Linked DNA regions of Homo sapiens: region 1 is linked to region 2. Evidence: fine-mapped QTL for protein levels in blood plasma. Region 2 holds a variant in brackets. A gene starts in the other region. All regions are shown on their forward strands. Region 1 holds the start of SERPINI2 (serpin family I member 2). Region 2 overlaps PRDM16 (PR/SET domain 16).

What was found. A credible set is the group of variants that fine-mapping cannot tell apart. PIP is the posterior inclusion probability: the model's chance that the variant is causal. The UK Biobank Pharma Proteomics Project read protein levels with antibody pairs (Olink). The fine-mapping took linkage between variants from a reference panel, not from the people measured, so its PIPs are less certain.
Region 1: SERPINI2 starts here. The variant in region 2 is the best candidate, but not a certain one, in a credible set for the plasma level of the SERPINI2 protein (UK Biobank, PIP 0.70).

Annotation. Positions count from the first base shown.
Region 1 is chr3:167,472,305-167,477,674 of GRCh38, forward strand. SERPINI2 (serpin family I member 2) reads right to left here and starts at 1,738. Exons shown (of 9, transcript NM_006217.6): 1 at 1,699-1,738. It overlaps LOC105374197 (a long non-coding RNA gene), which reads left to right. Exons shown (of 3, transcript XR_924683.3): 3 at 2,068-2,156.
Region 2 is chr1:3,275,734-3,281,113 of GRCh38, forward strand. The region is part of intron 3 of PRDM16 (PR/SET domain 16); the gene reads left to right. LOC124903828 (collagen alpha-5(IV) chain-like) reads left to right here. Exons shown (of 2, transcript XM_047436627.1): 1 at 1-5,380. Among named protein-coding and RNA genes, the nearest start is that of MIR4251, 150 kb to the left of the region's middle. RefSeq lists an enhancer at 1-720. The variant T/C (reference allele first, on the strand shown) is at 2,023.

The DNA.
Region 1 (5,370 bases), not on the chromosome of region 2:
TATTAGAAAATTAATGTATTCTAAAGCAACTGAGTAATCTGGCTAACTTTTTACAATTTTCCTCACGCTTTATTTCTTAGGACAAAATAACCCAAAGCCCTCTTCCTGCTTTTCCAAAAGAAGACAAATACAATGCAGAAAACCTGCAAAGTTTGAAACAAAATGGCAATCAAATATAAATGATACAATAAAGTACTATGCTCACTACCTGGGTGATGAGATCATTTATACCCCAAACCTTAGTGTCAGGCCATATACCCATGTAGCAAACCTGCACATGTACATTAATCTGTAATAAAACTTGAAATTATAAAAGAAAAAATATAAATAAAATGAAATATAATATCAAAGAATTGACAGAAATACTAACAAATGTAAGAGTAGCAGCAATTAAAAACCATAAACAATTCACAAGACTAATAATACCCTATTAAAGTGCTCTCCACTAAAATTGCAGGAAATTCAACCATTTGATTATATCTCAAGCAGAATTAGTTTTGCAATATTACCACATATTTGGTAGAATGTTGACTCCAAGGCCTCATAAATTTTAGTAACAATAATTTTACCTTATAAATAATACATGTTAGTAATCCTTAAAAACTTATCCATCAGTAAGTTACTAGGAAGTAACCCTTAATTAGGGGTAAAGATGAAAGCCTTTAGAATAGTCTGTTGTCAGCCTTAAGTAGAGACTTACATTTCTAGAGTGTTTTGCAGATCATTAAGGGTACCATAAATGGTAGGAGTCCCTAAGAACAACTATATTTATATATAAAGATTACTAATAGTCAAATATTGTTCCAAATTAAACTATGGAGTCATTATTTATCCTTCAATGTATTTTGTTAAACTGTATTTGTTTAGATATATATTTGCAAAAGACAAAAGCCTCAAAAAACAATCCAAAGCAATTGTTAGAAAATGTGTTGGTAAACTTTAGATATAGACCTATATGCTATTAATATCAAGCAAATGTTTCATTAGGGATTAATTTAGCATATGAGCTTATAAATGAGAGTGCAACAATAGTTAAAAACCAGTGAGTAAGAGAAGTTTTACATGCAAAATAAATGTCTGTGTATCATTATCTTCTAATATATTCAATTTCTCAGAAGACTTCTGACCAAAATATGTGTTTGTAGATACGTAGTCAAAATGTTATTAGTACCTTTAAGTTATCAACTGGAAATACATTAGATATAGCTTTATGTATTTGGTTTATATTGGAATAATGAACAGTATTATTAAAAATGTAATTTTTTTCTTTGTGGTAGAATCTCAGTATTAGAGTTTCCTTCTCATTATTATTAATAATCTTAATAATTAAATTTATATTATTTGAGCATCCACATCCATTTTTTCTAGAAAATTTCTAAGCACTTAATAAATTATAACCTCAGACAAATATTGGTTTTAAAAACTCACTTACCTCATCAGGTTTTGGATCATATCTTATCAGAAAGCACAAAGTAATGCTGAACTAAACAACCTGATGAATAGTCCTATAAGAACTGGATCTTCTGATTTGTGGTGAAATCATTTAAGGAGAATAAAAGCGATATGTTAATTAAATAAATTCAAATGATTTTTACACCAAAGTAAATTGAAATGCCATTCCATACTCTACTAAACATTCATAGGCAATGTTATTGCATACATACTTATTCAAAAGCTATTTATTTCTAAGGTACTTACCCCAAACTGACTTCTGATTATTCACTGGAATGTTACAACTAAAATACGCTTGCTGGAAAACTCTTGTACATAAACACCTGAGCGATCAAGGCCAACTCCATTTATCTTGACCATTGCTTGATTAATTCCTCTAGAACAAAAGCAGGTGTTCACTACATTTGTATTAAGAACTAACACAATCGGGTTAATGATCAACTGATGAAATGTGCAAGAATTGAGAAAAAAACAATTATAGAATTTTTTAAAAGTATTAAATTTATATTATTATTTTATCCATTATTTTGCTTCTTTTAAAAGTTGCACAGAATTTGAAAGGATGCGCTACTGGTTGTAAATTTGCTAGTAATTAGTTCTTTTTGTTTCTCACAGGACTCCTACATCAGATTACCAATGCACTTTGTCATAAATATTTCAGAATGCCTATGAGAAAAAGAATAAAGCTAAATCAAGTCCAGAATACAGAGACAAATCACTGCTGCATTGACAGAGTTCTCAACATTCATCAAATTATACAATAGTCAGAGGAGTTTCCTGTGGATATAAGGTCCATTTGAATCCTTAAGAAAAAGAGTGGATATTGAAGAAATATGTTCTTTATTCTGAGCAGAAAGGCCAGCAAAAAAGATAATGGATTTGCCAAAATATATCAGGACAATACTATTAGCCATAGGTAATTGGATGATAAAAATTGCTGTTACCTTTATGTGCTTTTGAAACTCTACATGATTTTCTTTGCAAAAAGGTCATTAATAAAAAATTGCATAATTTAATGGGTTTCATCTCATTTTTGTAGTTCAAATCAATCACCTCAATGGCAATCAGATATTAAGCACATTGTATTATTTATCTATAGCCTTTGAGAAGAGAAAAAAAATTTAGTTCACTTTTAATTAAATATCTGTTGATCCCCAAATTTAATACTATTTCTGATAAACTCATGTAAAAGAAATAAAGTGAATATAGATAGCTTTAAATGGAATTCATTTTTAAAAACTTGTCAGAGGACCCTGTTAACATCTTTCCATGTCCTAACATGGCTATAACTTAAAAATAGGCCTGAGAATAGATCATTATAGGCCATAATCTACTAATTAACTAAAATTTTTTGATTTCCCATATAGGCATCTCCAAATGTTTTCTAGATCTTGAGTTTTATTCTAATATTACCTACTCTATCATAAGCACACTCTAGTGTAGCTTTAACTTAACACAGAGATAATTTTCCAAAAAGAGTTGTGCAATACAAGAATACTATCATTCTACTTGCTTCACACTGCAATACATAAATATTAAGTCTGAATGTCAAGACTATCATTCAATCAATGCTTTTCTACCCATTTACTGACACCAGCAAACATATATCACCAGTACCCTTGGCTACCACATCATTATGTCTGTACACTGCTCAGATCACAATGTGATTTATCCAGAAATAGTCCATTACTTTTCCTACCAATGGCAGAGACCGTCACTCTGTCCTACTAAGACCATTTAATGAAATTGTTCTGTAAGGACCTTATATTAGAGCAGTTCAGGCAGAATGTTCATTTTCCTGTCTCTTGAGGAGTAAAAAGCAATAGCCATAAATTTATTCTCCCTGGTTTAACCTCTTTTAATAGACAATGACGACAATACAATTGTCCATAAAATATTACCACAAATTTTTAAAATATTTTCCCAAACCGCTTTTTTCTACAATTCTATTTTGCTCCTAGAAAATCGGGGTGGGGGGAGAATTATTCATTAATGAGAGCCAACGTGTCTTGGTAGAAGGTTGATCGCCATTACTGTCCGACTGTAAAGTATAAGCCTAGGAATATATATAAAAACCACAGCAAAGGGTTACAGTTATCATCTCATCAATTTTCTTATCCTTTTATAGTTTTTTCAAGTAAAAGTGCACTTAATTCCAAACTTTAAAAATGTATAAGCAAATGCCCTCATCAGTAAAGAACTTAAAAGTTAATTCTTCCATTTAAGCATGGACTCATTTCAGGCAATTTTTTTTGGTAAGATTGTTCCTAAATTTTGAGTGATAATAGGAAAATGTTCTGACAAAAGAAAATGTTAAATTATATTTAGTGTAAATATAAGTAATACAAACAAGGTAGCCTATTGAAAATTATGACATATCCTATTTTAATGTGACCAATTCCTTTTACCACAGAAAAATGGATCATAAGTAATTGAATCTGAATGTTAATTTCAGAAACAGTTTATAATGCCTTCAGTTCTGTTAAGAGTTGACAGGTGAGATCCTGCTACCTGCCTAGAAAATTAGATGCTGTGAGTTACAAAAGAAGAGTAAGACACAGAAAAAAAGACATTGTCTTTTTTCTTCTTTTTGTGTTTTTTCTCCAAATTATTAGAAACAGTTACCTTGAAAGTCTCATACCTTTAAAAGTTCTCTTCTCATTGAATATATTTATGAGACAGCTCTTCTTAATTCCTTTTACAGAAGAAGCCCTGATGTTAATTAAGGATGGAATTAGAGTTACAGCATAATACCATGCACATGTAGTAGGCTATAGAGAGAAGGTCTGTCTGTATGAACCAGACTATCTCAGGCTATCACATCAAACAAAGTTATCTTCAAGGGTAAACAGTAAAGTATATCTAGCAAAAGAATTCCCAAATTAGACTGGAAAAAATATGCCAGATTATGAATTTCCAACTTATGCCAGTGGGCTCATTTAGTATTGGCTTAATAAACCACTACATTTTATATAGCTTCACTTCAGAACGCTGAGGGTAGAAAAGGTGCATTCTATTTATATGTGAATACCCGGAACCTAAAATAATCTCTTATACATGCCTTCAATACTTACATGAGGGATGGACGGATCAGTGGGGAAAAGAGCCTTTGCAAATTATTTGGTACCCGCATTCTACTTTTATAACATCTTAACATTCCATTAAATTTCTGGGCATGTGGCTCAGATTTCACTCCATTGTACTATCACCAACCTATGATTCATAAATCATGTGCTCTGAGTTTGAAATGATGGATTACCCAGTCAAACCTCCTACCCAGTGCAAGAAGTCTTTGCAATATCCCCGTGAGACAGTTACCCAGTGTCTGCTTGAACATCTCAAATAATCTTTTTGTTCAAAAGCAACTTTTTATATTTTAAAAAAATTTACCTTGAAATACTTTCAAATTTACATAAAAGTTGCAGATATAGTTCAAAGAACTGCTATCTCCACCTCCTCCTCTTTCCCCAATTGTTAGCATCTACCGCATGTGTGTGTTTCATCTATGTATCTATCCTCCCAATAAGCAAACAGATGTAAATATAGATATGTATATGTGTTACCTGTGTGTGCATATATATACATTTTATATATACATATAATTAGTATTTTCTGAATCATTTTATAGCAAGCTAAAAACATAATTTCTATCATACTTAAACATTCTATTATTATATTTTTCTAAAACAAGGACACTTCTTGTACATCATCACACCACCCAACAGACAAACACACACGCACACACACACAGAGACAAATATACTTTTCTCCTACAATCTTTCCTGCATGTAATTTTCATTCCATGAGGAGGAAAGGCGATATGAATAGAAGTCATAATGCCTAACTCAGAATACACTTAAATGTAGTTAGAATAGGCAGCTGTCTTCTGAAAGTCCTTCCATCACCGCCTTCTCCACC
Region 2 (5,380 bases):
TTTTGCTGAGGGTGACGTGAGAACCACCAGTGAGAGCCAGGGGGGCGGGAGGGGAGTCATTCCAAACTGGGGAGAGCCGTGCACATCCAGCGTGGAAGTGGGTGGCACCCAGCCAGGCCCTAGTCTCTTCTCGTGGGGCCAGCGTCTGAAGATGCCCTCCCAAGCCATTCACATTGCGGCCAAGACCATGTTTCCCTTTCTCTGTGACCCAGCTGCGCCCTGTGGGTCTGTGCACTCCAGCACACGCGTGCCTGCTGCGGCCTCCCCGGTCTCTCTCACGCCGTGGGTGCCATTTCCGCTCTGCCGGCTTTGGTCTCCGGACACCACGTCGTGTTGACAATTACCCACAGCCAGGACTTGCCAAAACCTGGAGTTGAAAGGGCTTCAAGGGGGGAGAAACCAACTGGAAAGCTGTTTTCTGTTAAGGCAGGTTTATTTTTCCTTGCAATTATGTCTGACTAAAATGTCCTTGTGCGGGAGTCACTTCCCAAGAGAGGTCTGATTCATCCTGCCCTGGGCAGCCCCCCGGCCCCCGCCATCCTCGCCAGGCCTGCCATTGGGCCCGCGGTGGGAGTCCTGGTCTCAGCACCGCAGACTCCAGCAGCGACCAGGCCTCTTGAGGGGCTCTGTGGGTCCATCCCAGGATGGAAAGCACCCCTGAACCTCTGGGAGCTCAGGAGGGGAGCGTGGACTCTGCTCGTGCCCGGCCCTGAGCTGCCTCTGCTGTGGGAGCCTCTCATACCTACATGAAGTCAGCTGCATGAAGACTGGCCAGCGACCCGGACCCGCCCGCAGGAAGGCCCCACGGCCCTAACTCCGCCGGTGTCTGACCCCGAGCTGTCCCAGCCCATGGCCTAGAGGAAGCCCAGGGTTCACATCCCAGGGAAGCTGCAGGGCCTTGGCAGCATGTTCAGCTCGTCGGCCCCAGCCAGCTCGAGGTGCCGTGAACAGAGCCAGCGAGGGGTGCCGTGAACAGAGCCAGCGAGGGGTGCCTGTTTCCTCACGGTTTCCCCTTTCTCCCTGGAGAACAGCGCCAGCCGCCTTGTAAATCACCCCTTTGCCCCGTCTGACATCTCCTGTTGCCTGGGCCGCCTCGGCCTGGACCCTGAGGCCAACCTAGTGATGGAAAGAGAGCGAGCCCTAAAGGGGGCTGGGCTTGGTCAAGTTCAGCACTTCCTCCGCCATCTTCTCCCCATCCCCCATCACGACCCCGGGCAGCGTCTGCCTCTCGTCCCCGTGGTGTTTGCCATCACCAATCCGTTTGATTGATCATCTCGGTGGCCACAGGTTGGTAATAAAGCTGGTTTCAGAGCCTCTTGCATTTCCCCCAGGACCCCGTTGGCATGACAGGACTTGACACCAGCCATTCGTCACCTGCTGCCTGTGGTCTCTGCACAATGACCAGCAGACAGACAAGAGCCAGGCCAGGAGGAGGCTTCGGGAGAGGCTGGGCCTGTGCTCAGGGCTGAGTGAGACTAGTGGACGTGGCCGGCCCCATGCCTCTCTGTGCACGGCTGGATCTTGCAAACAGTCGAGTCCTGGCTGCTGCGCCACCCGGGGATGGCATCGTCTGTCACACGCTTCACTCTCCCTGTGGCGCACTGGCATCCACCATGCCCACCTCAGAGGCCAGGAGGCACGTCAGCCGGGAAGGCTGCAGGGAACCCCCAAGCCCAGGCCACCAGGGCCCTACCCTGCCATGGGGCGCACTTGCTCAGGCCTCTCCTCACCACAGGGTCTCTGGGTGCCTCTGTGAAGACAGGATCCCAGTACAGGAAAGCCCCAGGCTGGCCCCGACCCTCTCCTTTTCTGGGAGGAAAAATGGGTTTATGTTGTGAATCCGCTGAAGCCCCTGGGACGTTGTCCAGGGACAGGGTCAGTGAAAATGTCTCAAAGGTCGGGGACTGGGCACAACGAGGCATTGACCCCAGATGAATCCACAGAGCTCCCGGAGCAGGGGAAGTAGCCCTTGTTCACCCACATGCACACACACACGCGCGCACACACGCACACGCACACACA[T/C]GCACACACGCGCACACACACGCACACATATGCACACACAAACGCACAGTTGTGAACACGAGCATATGCACATGCACACACGTGCACAGGCACATGTGCATAACCACTGTGTAAACACACCCAGGCACAAACAGGAACACAGACCCATACACTCATGCACATGAGCACACGCACTTTTCCAACACCGTGAAGTCCGTGCATCCGGGAGCTCTAGGTCAGCGATCATTGCTAGCAGGCCATGGGACCCTCTCATCTGAAAAGGAGGGAGGGCAGGGCAGGGGCTTGTAACCAAGAACTGTGTCTGGGGTCATTCCTAATTCAAGTCTGAGACAGTGTGAAGGCTTCTTCTCATTCTCATGGCCATTTCCCCAACCCCACCCAGGTCCCTAAAGCCCTATCATAGCCTGGCCTTACCGTCCTCGCCTGGTTTTCCAGCCTCCCACCCTGCCTGGGGCAGAGAAGACCCCCTCAAGGCCATGCTGCATCTCCTCCAGCATCCCAAATCCTCCCCATGGGCCATCTCCCACATGGTGTGGATAAAGGGGCGTCTTTCCTAGGGACAGCCTGGCTGCGCCCTTGCAGCCACACCTAGGCCTAATACTGTCTGGATGGCAAACAGGGAGCTGAATGAACCCCACTGCACAGGCAGGACCCCAGGGGCAGCCTGCAGAGTGTGGGAGGGGCCTGTGTGGAGTTCACATTCATGCAGGATATTTCAGCAGCAGCACATTTGCTCACATCGGCAACCCCCTCTTCTAAGCACCCACCTAAAGCGCAGTCACTAGCAAATGGAACATCCCTGTGCTGGGCATGAAACAGGCCCTGGAACCTCAGCCGCACCCGGCACCCTGCTGCCCGGCGGGGCCTGCAGTCAGCCAGGACACCCGGCAGCCACAAGGCCGCCCTCTCTGGAGCCTGTGGTCTGGTTCGGCTAGGGTATTGTGATCTGAGGACCCTTAGAAAACTGGCCACCCGAGAACTTTTCCAGTGTGACTGCTGGCCTCTCTGGCAGACGTGTCCAAACTCAGAAAACCTCTGCTGCTCTGACCACAGGGAACGTCAGAGGGGACGGGGCAGCGGAACAAAGCACAAAGCGTCCCTGCGTCCTCTCAACGTGGCCCAGCTCCTGCAGACACTCAGCGAGCCGTGGCCTCTCCCATCCTCCCACGCTTCCCTCCGGCCGGCCCTGGAGATCCGTGGAGCCACACGGTGCCGAGCGCGGCGCTGGCCGTGTGCTCCGTGTCTGTCATCGTCAGCCCTGTCCACCTTTGGGGCAGGGGCAGCTGGGCTGGCTCCAGTTTCTCTCCATGTCAACTTTGCAAAGGAAGGAGGTGGATGCAGAAGCTGCCACCAATAGCCACGTGGGCAGCTGTGGCCCCGAGTCCGGGGATGCAGTTGGTCATCAGGAGCCTCGAAGCGTCGCTCACCATGCCTGGAAAGACCGGCGGCCTCTCCTGCCCAGGCGCAGGCCCTCGGCTCAGCAGAAGCCCTGCAGAAGCTGGAGCAGGAGGCATCCCTGGGTCCGGCACAGCCTGTGGTCAGGCCGCCTCTGCAGCGGGGCAGGGTAGATGTTCTCCCCTCAGATCTGAAACGCAGAGAGGAAGGGCGGGCCCTCGCGGTGCCTCGGGGCAGCTGTGCTGAGCAGTGTCAGCCGCTCCGGGCGAGGGACCAAGTGGCCACACTGGCCGCAGAGCTGCCCTGCCCGGCGGCGTCAGTCTGGGACGCCCTGCACGCCTGCCCCTGCCACCAGGCTGGCTTCCTTCTGAGCTGCCTCGGCCGGAGACCCCTTGTGACTGGGCTCTCTGTGGATGACAAAAGGAAAGACTTGAGCAAGAGGCTCTGAGGAAGGTGCCGGCCCCTCTCCAGACTCCTGTGCCACAGGCTGAGGACGGGCAGCCGTCAGGGAGAGTCTGTGCTGCAGGAGGGCAGAGGGTCGGGGGAGTGGAGCTGAAGGGGATGGTGGAGGAAGGAAGGCAGGACAAAGGGGCCTCCACCGCCTCCTGCCCCTTTCCCCATTGCCTGAGGACCAGAGCCTGCGGGGGGGTGGGGACAGGGAAGTGGCCTCCTGGGCCAGCATATCCCTGAGCCAGTGTGGAGTGGACAGGCGGCCCCTCCTCCCACCCCCCCCGGGCACCCACCACCAATGTGGGTCCACACCATTCCCCATGACGTCAGCCGAGAAGCATGAGCTCGGTCAAGACAAAACCTCATGGAATCCCGAGTCTTTTAAAAGAAATATTGATTTATTTTCCAATCACGATAATGCCATACTTTTTTTGTAAAACAAGCAGGGTGAAAAAAAAAAAACATTTAAATAAGAAAGTCAGAATTATCCATGAGTCCTCTATTGCTGTGTGGAAGCCAGTTATGGTCAGAGAGAGACATTCAGCACCCACTGCATGGGTAGGGGGTGGCTGCCCCGAGCTGGTCACCAGCTTAGTGCCAAGTCTGTGGCTTGTTGAAGCCGACTCTGTGTGTTCGTGTGTTGGTGTGTGCATGTGACGTGTGCACATGAATGTGCGCATGACCTGGTGTGTGTGCACGTGTGTGTGCATGCTTGCAGCCCAGTGGCTGTCTCAGGGGACATGTCTTCAAGTGTGTGGCTCCCTGTCTCACCTGGGGCAGGTATATCTGGGAGGGTGCAGAGTTCTCTGTTTGCACACAGAGGAAGTGGTTTTCTGCCTGAGTCCCCCCACCCTTACTGCCAGCGTCCAACCTCACACCAGAGAAAAGCCAGAGTTTCATGTGCGGAGGGACGGCGTACATTCCAACAAGGTCCGTCCTTCCCACCTCAGGCCTTCCATCGCCTCCCTCGACTCCCACCTGGAGCCTGGAGGCAGCTGGAAGAACCCACCTCTCACCCCAGCAAGGTCTGTGGCGTTAAGGTCACACTGGCACCAACTAAGAACTAAGACCTTCTCTGAGGCATGAAGGCTGTTGCTTAGCTTTGAAAACAGTAAATGTGAATGAAAGGGAACCTTGAGAAAGACCCGTTCCTAGGTGAAGTGAGAAGCAGGCTAGACTGGCCGTCCCGGGCCATACCCACCCTGTCTCCAAGGGGTCTCTGCCCAGGAGAAATCAAAGTGGGGTTCTCACAGCCCCTGGGGCAGGGGCAGGGAAATTTGGTCAGAAACAATGCGGAGCCCCCAGGGCTTTTGTCAAATCTCCATCCATGGGTTTTGTTTTCTCCCCAGTTCTGAATCTGGGAGGCCGAGTGGCTGCCCAGCGAGGTTGGCTCTGGGCTGAGGACAGCACTGCCTGGGCCTCCTTCCCTGGGTGGTTGTTCAACACCGGGCAAGTCCCTGCACCTGTCCAGCCTCAGCCCACTGTCTCAAAAGTGGGGCCATTGGCATTCTGG